2 linked regions of the Homo sapiens genome follow. The protein of the gene in region 1 purifies or fractionates together with the protein of each later gene. This does not show direct contact. Each region holds a gene or a part of one and is shown in the gene's direction. Other genes may lie near its edges.

What was found.
Region 2: the proteins of ZNF566 (region 1) and PPP2R1B purify together in Homo sapiens (co-immunoprecipitation; one large-scale study listed by IntAct). This does not show direct contact.

Annotation. Positions count from the first base shown.
Region 1 is NC_000019.10:36,486,395-36,490,892, reverse strand, and holds the start of ZNF566 (zinc finger protein 566), read left to right. Parts: upstream 1-1,331; 5' UTR 1,332-1,407; exon of another isoform or gene 1,408-1,419; intron 1,420-1,457; exon of another isoform or gene 1,458-1,480; intron 1,481-4,498. UniProt on the Homo sapiens protein: May be involved in transcriptional regulation.
Region 2 is NC_000011.10:111,742,041-111,745,964, reverse strand, and holds part of PPP2R1B (serine/threonine-protein phosphatase 2A 65 kDa regulatory subunit A beta isoform), read left to right. Parts: intron 1-2,434; coding exon 2,435-2,589; intron 2,590-3,299; coding exon 3,300-3,442; intron 3,443-3,820; coding exon 3,821-3,912; intron 3,913-3,924. UniProt on the Homo sapiens protein: The PR65 subunit of protein phosphatase 2A serves as a scaffolding molecule to coordinate the assembly of the catalytic subunit and a variable regulatory B subunit.

The DNA of each region.
Region 1 (4,498 bases):
GTGGCGGCGGGGCAGAGGCTGCAATCTCGGCTCTTTGGGGGGCCAAAGCAGGCGGCTGGGAGGAGGTTGTAGCGAGCCGAGATCACGCCACTGCACTCCAGCCTGGGCACCATTGAGCACTGAGTGAACAAGACTCCGTCTGCAATCCCGGCACCTCGGGAGGCCGAGGCTGGCGGACCACTCGCGGTTAGGAGCTGGAGACCAGCCCGGCCAACACAGCGAAACCCTGTGTTTGGTGGAGACCAAAAAAATACGAAAACCAGTCAGGCGTGGCGGCGCGCGCCTGCAATCGCAGGCACTCGGCAGGCTGAGGCAGGAGAATCAGGCAGGGAGGTTGCAGTGAGCCGAGAGGGCAGCAGTACAGTCCAGCTTTGGCTCGGCATCAGAGGGAGACCGTGGAAAGAGAGGGAGAGGGAGACCGTGGGGAGAGCATATATCCTTATTATTAAACTATGCATGACTGTGTATACAATACCTTTATAGGTCAAAAGCAGTCAAATACTGGCCATGAGATACACTTAGTCCAAGTACACAAATAATTGCAGAAGGAGAAAGTGAAACTCCTCTTACTTCCTGCCCCACTCATTTATCACAAAGCACACAGAAGTCAGAATAACACCTGCCCTTTGCAATTTCAGACTCCTCTCTTTCTGCCTCTCCAAACCTGTCCCACGTTTGGCGATTCCTTTCCCTTCGACCTCCCCCCATCAGGTCGCAGGTTCCTGGTCTACACCCCTTCTGCGTCCCCAACCACTTCTGAGTCTCACAACCTCTGGTCCCATAACCCCTCTGCACTAAGGAGCAATAAACAAAATTCACGCCCGAACAAAGAGGCCAAAACAGCAACCCAGGATGTTTGCGCCTGCGCACTCTGGGCGCACAGTACTCAGGCCGGCAGCCCAGCACCGGCTTATCTGTGAGAGCAATTAAGATGACTTTCGGAGGGTCCAACCGCCTTCCCAGCTCCGAACTACATCTCCCAGAAGGCTCAGTTGTGCGATTATCTTTCCATGCAGACTTGTCCTCTTTCTGAGGCTGTCCAGCGCCTGGGGGCAGTAGGACGGGTCCGGGAACTAAGCCCATCTCAAACACGTCGGAGTGGCTTTCTTTGGGGGCCAAGGCCCGAGCCTGAGGCGGGACTCCATGAGGCCTCTGGGGCGCGAGCGGTTTGACTAGGGGGGGCGATCCTTTCGGCGGGGCTGACGCAAGGCGCGGACAGGAATTCTGACGATCGGGAACCATCTTGTCCGGCCTTGATACGTCTCTGACTACGCTTCCCAGAGGTCTCCTCGGCAAGACTGTACTTCTCGCGGTAATTCAGCTTCCAACTCACGCGCTGGCGGGACCCTCAGGGCTTTACCAGCAACTACCCCAGTGCCGGGGAGGGTTCTGCTGCTTCGAAAGCTGGTAAGGCCTGAGGTGAGAAACCCGGGAGAGGGCGGGGCCGGGGGCCAAGCCTCGGCTTTGTGCGGCGGTGGAGGTGAGATTGAAAGCGTGCGCTTGCGTCTGTGTGGAGGTGTGTGGTGAATGATCGCGCGATTGTGACAGGCTGCCCTTGTGATGAGTGTGTTTCCAACGCTCACACCGTGTGCAGCACGGCCTCGGAGACTGTGGCTGCTGGTGTGTGTGTGAGAGGGAGCAGGACCACGTGCGGCATTGTGTGTGCGGCTGTGGGGAGCTTGTGCCTGGTTGAGTGTTACTGCGTTTGTCCCCGTAGTGGTGTGCGACTATATGCTGTGTGACTGTGTGCGGCAGAGTTCAGGTGGGGATACCTGCGAGTAACTGCATGTTTCTATCTGTGTGTGTGGCTGTGGTTAATGTGTGATCGTGACTGTGACCCGGTACAGGTGTGCGCCGACTGTGACAATGTGGTTGTGACTGTGACTGCCTCCTCGGTAAGCGTGCACTTGTGCTTATGTGACCGATAGAGGCCCTGCGTGTGCGACCCTGTTGCTTTGGGCGTGGATTGTCTGTAGCTGAATGTCCCCATGGTGGGAGTGTGATCAGGTTTGTGTGGCAGGGTAAGTCACACAGTGTGAGGTTTTATCACTTACGTATACTTCTCTAGGCATTATACTCCAGTTTTTCCCCGTTTTAAAACTTTATATGAATGTTGTCATACTGTCTTTGGTTTATTTTTACAATTCTGTGAATCATCCCTATTAGATAAAATCGCGGTTAATTCAATTTCTTTGCTATATTCTCCCTTCTGAAGTATACCACAATTATTCATCCTTTCTAGTAATGATGCCCTATTAGTTATTTATAGCTTTTCATTTTATAAACAACACAGCCACATTCTTTCACATGGGGTACACATGCTTGAGTTTATTTACCAGCAGAATTGCCGGTTCATATATCTTCCACTTTACTAAACAGTGTCAAAATATATACCCGAGTGGCTGCACAAATTTGTACTTGAACAGCAATGTTTGAAATATCTTATTGCTCCATATCCCTACCAAAGCATAGTTCCAAGAGTTAAAAAAATTTTTGTAGGCCAAGTGTGGAGGCTCATGCGTGTAATCCCAGCACTTTGCCAGGCCAAGGTGAGAGGATCACTTGAGGCCAGGAGCTGGAGACCAGCCTGGGCAACATAGTGAGACCCTAACTCTACCATAAATACATACATACATAAAAAATTAGCCGGGCATGGTGGCTGGCACCTATAAGTCCTAGCTACTCAGGAGGTTGAGATGAGAGGATCGCTTGAGCCCAGTGCTTTGCAGCTGCAGGAAGCCATGATCATACCACTGCCCTTCAGCCTGGGCAACAGAGCAGGAGGCTGTCAATAGATACATAGAGCCTATATAAAGTGTGCAAATCTTAAGTGTACAGCTGTGTAACACTCTTAGATCTATACAAAGAACTTTGCCAGGACCTGAGATGCTTCCCTCATACCACTTCTCAGTAATTTCTCCCCCACACAATCTATTCAGAATTCTATCATTAACTAGTTTTACCCATTCTTTTTTTTTTTTTTTTTTTTTTTTTTGAGACAGAGTCTTGCTCTTGTCACCCAGGCTGGAGTGCAGTGATGCAATCTTGGCTCACTGCAACCTCCGCCTCCTGGGTTCAAACGATTCTCCTGCCTCAGCCTCCTGAGTAGCTGGGATTACAGGCACCCATCACACCCGGCTAATTTTTGTATTTTTAGTAGAGACAGGGTTTCCCCATGTTGGCAAAGCTAGTCCTGACCTCAGGTGATCCGCCCACCTTGGCCTCCCAAAGTGCTGGGATTACAGGCATGAGCCAGTGCATCTGGCTGTCTTACACATTCTTGAACTTCATGTATATATGCAATTATGCAGCATGTACTGTTTTATGCCAGGCTTCTTTTGTTATATATTATGTTTGTGAAATTCATTCATGTTGTTCAGTGTAATTGTACTTAGCTCTCACTATACTGGGGATATATTGTAGTATATTAGTCGATTACATTGTTGATGGATATTTGGGTAGCTTCCAATTTGGGGCTGTTACAAATGATGCTGCAGCTGTGAACACTCTGCTGTGTTTTTGGTGAACACATGAAGGCTTTTCTCCCGGGTTAATACTTAGGAGTGGCATTGCTAGATCATAGGGTAGGCTAATGTTTAATAGATACTACGAAGCTCTCATGTGGTTGTTCCAGTTTACACTCCATCCAGCAATGTATGAGAGTTCCAGTTGCTTCATATCCTCTCCGTAATTTGGTATGGTTAGTCTTTTAACTATTTTATTGGTTGTGTGGTGCAGTTTCATCATAGGTTTTTGTTTTGGTTTGTTTTGTCTTGTTTTGGTTTGTTTTTTTTTTTTTTTTTGAGACGGAGTCTCGCTCTGTGGCCCAGGCGGGAGTGCAGTGGCGCAATCTCGGCTCACTGCAAGCTCCGCCTCCCGGGTTCACGCCATTCTCCTGCCTCAGCCTCCCGAGTAGCTGGGATTACAGGTGCGTGCCACCACACCCAGCTAATTTTTGTATTTTTAGTGGAGACAGAGTTTCACCATGTGAAACTCCCGCCCGCCTCAGCCTCCCAAAATCCTGGGATTATAAGTGTGAGCCACTGCACCCAGCCTCATCATAGTTTTAATTTGTATTTCCTTGATGTGAAATGATGTTCAGCACCTTTTTGTATGTTTACTGGCCATTTGTATATCTTCTTTTTTGTGTCCATTTTCCCCTTCGTAAATTTTTTAAAAATGTTCTTTTCTTTCTTTCTTTCATTTTTTTTTTTTTTTTTTGAGACAGAGTTTCGCTCTTGCTGCCCAGGCTGGAGTGCAATGGCATGATCTCAGCTCACTGCAACCTCCACCTCCCAGGTTCAAGCAATCCTCCTGCCTCAGCCTCCCATGTAGCCAGGATTACAGGCTTGCGCCACCACGGCCAGCTAATTTTGTATTTTTAGTAGACACAGGGTTTCACAATATTGGTCAGGCTGGTCTCAAACTCCTGATCTCAGGTGATCCAACTGCCTTGTCCTCCCAAAGTGCTGGGATTACAGGTGTGAGCCACTATGCC
Region 2 (3,924 bases), on another chromosome or scaffold:
CCATGAACCAATGAAATAACAGCTCTGAAATTGTTTTGTACTTAATCACAGGAGCTTTTTTGCTTTTGCATTTCAGATAAGTGTTATATAATGATCACTGGATCAGTTAGAGTTTTTGAAACTTTTCCCCTAGTTAGGTAACTACTAAAAGAACATTGTGAAAATTCCAGAGAAGTATAAGGAAGAAAGTATCACTCACCTATATTCCTGTGGTTGAGTAGACAGTTTTGATCAGAGGGAGGAATGTAGAAGGGAAATTTATTTATTTATTATAGGAGAAAGGAGAAGGTATCAGTTATTGAGCATAGATAGACATTCAAAGAAACCTTGCAGGTCAGCCAGGCCTTGAGAGGAGATGGGGAGAGAGAAAGAGACAGAAATAGACAAAAGAAAACAGGCAGAACTCTGGAATGGTTTGCATTCTTCTGAAAACAGTCAGAGGAACCAAGAACATAGTAGGCATCTGGCCAAGTAGAGTTCAGTGCAGTTAAGGTCTTGGTCAAGGCTATGCATGTGTGTTCCCCAGTCTCTGGTTTTTCTGGCAGTAGAGATCCCTTCCTATGGTAATGGCATTATGATAAAAATCTAAAGCGTGTTAAAAAAAATAGTAATTTGCTGAGCATGGTGGCTCATGCCTGTAATCCCAGCACTTTGGGAGGCTGAGGCGGGTGGATGACTTGAAGTTAGGAGTTCGAGACCAGCCTGGCCAACATGGTGAAACCCTGTCTCTACTAAAAACACAAAAATTAGCTGGATGTGTTGGCGGGCGCCTGTAATCCCAGCTACTCAGGAGGCTGAGGCAGGAGAGTTGCTTGAACCCAGGAGGCGGAGGTTGCAGTGAGCCGAGATCTCGCCACTGCACTCCAGCCTGAGAGACAGAGTGAGGCTCTGTCTCAAAAAAAAAAAAAAAAAAAAAATTAGAGGAGAAGACACAAATACTCTAGCTAGCTCCTCTTTAGTGGGGAGGACAGGGAAGGGTTTGGGCCAAAGACAAAGACTATGGATATGAAGGGAAGGAATCTGTATTACAGTAAAACAGTTGACTTGAGTTTGCTCCTTAGTGCATCTGAGTCTTACCGAAAGGTTGCTTCTCCTGTAGACTGTCAGTTTAAGTGTTGATAATCAGTTGTATGGGTCACTTGTCTATGCTGTCTTGCTTGTTCTCAACATCATTGCCCAGAAGGATCTATGAATAGAAGAAGTTGCCTATTTCTTGGTTGGAGGCTTGTATAAATTGCCTAGGACTGGGACTGTGGCTTGGATAGCTATTCCTGCCCTTCCTATCATCCCAGGAAGGTTGGGCCCACCTGGGGAGAGAAGTAGAATAAGGAATTAGTACCTACCACCCTCGATTTGTTAATCTGAGCCCAAATTTTGAGTCTTACTGGATCTGTAAAGTGAAGTGACACCAGGCTTGTTTTTGTTCAGTGCTGTATATAGCAACTAATTGTGAGAGGATTGTAGCTGAGACCTTTATTATCTAGCTTTATGTCTTTGATAAATGATCAAAGGATATAGGGAATTATTAGATGTTAAGGCAGGCACATTGATTCAAAGACATTTGACATCTTGTTTCAACCTAAGCATTTTCATGGAGAGGAAGCAAGTCAGTCTGATGTTTGTATTTGCTGTTGTATAGATGACCACAGTGGCCTCTACACCATTTCCTTGTTGTCTTTCTCAGTCAACGTCGCTTCTCCGTGATGTTGCTGGAATAATCTTGCTAAAATTCCACATTGGTCATCAGGTCACAAGTTTGCTTTAAAAACCCATCACTGTTTTTCCTAATCAAATCTAAGTCTTTCATAATGCTCTGCAGTCTGGGTCCACCCTAATTGTCTAACTTAGAAGTCTCACAGGTTTCAGTTTTTTCTGTTTGTGTCCTGGATACATGTCTTTACCCTTTCTAGGAATTCCTCCCCGCTTCTCTCCACTTACACAGATCCTCCCAAATCTTCACTGCCCAGTCAAGGCTTCTTTCTGTGCCGAAGCCTTCCTAGACCTTCCCTGTTCACTCTTCTCTGCACTGCTACAACCCTCACAGCCTTTACTACACAATGCCACACTTCATTCTAATTGCTCTTACACCATGTGACTTCATGGAGTGTGTTAGCTTTCATTTCTCTGATAAGAGCATATTTCTTGTGAGGGAAAGTATCTTCTGTGTTCTTTTTGTAGCACATAGTAGGCACTTGTATTTGTTAAATAATTGATGATGCATATGGTGAGCTCCTTGCATCCCTTTTCTGTGGATATGCACACTTGGAAACTGAGTTGGAGCTGAGCATGCTTGTCATTGCAGCATGATTACATGTGGAGTCTGATTGCAGAGGGGTTTTGCTTTTGGTCCACATTTGATTTTCATGTAAGTAAACTAGGTTATGCTTAAAAAACAATAAGCGATATGAGAACATGTTTTTGACCTCTTCTGCAGTATACGCCATCCGAGAAGCTGCCACCAACAACCTCATGAAACTAGTTCAGAAGTTTGGTACAGAGTGGGCCCAAAATACTATTGTTCCCAAAGTGTTAGTAATGGCAAATGATCCTAATTACTTGCATAGAATGACCACTTTATTCTGCATTAATGTAAGTATAACATAACTGTTATTGCTAAGCTTAATCATTAAAGCAAAATTATTCATGACTATTTCTGAATTATCAGTATACTGTCTTCTATTTGGAATATATGTCTTGTATTGATTAATTGGAATAGACAGGAGATGAGAGAAAATGTCAATTTTAAAATTCATGTTAAAATCTACAGTATTGGCTGGGCACAGTGGCTCATGCCTGTAATCCCAGCACTTTGGGAGGCTGAGGCGGGCAGATCACCTGAGGTCAGGAGTTTGAGACTAGCCTGGTCAACATGGCAAGACCTTGTCTCTACTAAAAATACAAAAATTAGCCGGGCATGGTGGTGCATGCCTGTAGTCCCAGCTACTTGGGAGGCTGAGGCAGGAGACTCCCTTGAACCTTGGGCAGGGGGCAGAGGGTGCAGAGGTTGCAGTGAGCTGAGATCGCGCCACTACACTCCAGCTTGGGCGACAAGGCAAAACTCCGCCTGAAAAAAAAAAAAACAAAGAACAAAACTACAGTATTTTAAAAGTTCAACTTATTTGTGAATTCTGGTCTAATTCTCTGATCATTTGAATGATTCTTGTGTCCCCCACTCAGCTGCTCAAACTAGAAATATTTTCCTATTGGTCAATTATTTTCTTATTAAATATTAATTTGTTTCATTAGATTTTGGAATTTTTTAAAGTATTTTAAATGTGCCATCTTACTTATTTTTCTAGGCACTGTCTGAGGCCTGTGGTCAGGAAATAACTACTAAGCAAATGCTGCCCATCGTATTAAAAATGGCAGGAGACCAAGTAGCAAATGTTCGCTTCAATGTGGCCAAATCTCTACAAAAGATTGGACCAATTCTAGATACCAAGTAAGATTTTAGTGTTTAGTCTTGTTTTAAAAGTGTACTTTAAATTTTACCTTATAGTGGGGAGTAATTAGCTAAAATTAAGTTCAGGGATTTTCACTTTACTTAAGATCTGGGTTTGCTTAAAGAAAATAATTTAGCAACTATTTTTGAGGATGTCCACTATGACTTTTATATTTAAGCTCTGTAAATGTGTAGATCCTTGTCTGAAGCTGATTTTGCTGAGAATTTCTTTAGACATTATTTTGTGTATTTGTCAAGTTTATAAATGTCTTTATTTTTTTACTTTAAATTTTAACAATTACCATTAACCATATACACCAAAAAGGATTTCTATGGCCCATTAGACTGTCTTTCACAGATAATACTTTTGAATGTCAGTGCTTTACAGGGAGAAGTGAAGCCAGTACTACAGAAGTTAGGTCAAGATGAAGACATGGATGTCAAATACTTTGCACAGGAAGCTATAAGTGGTATGTATTTCC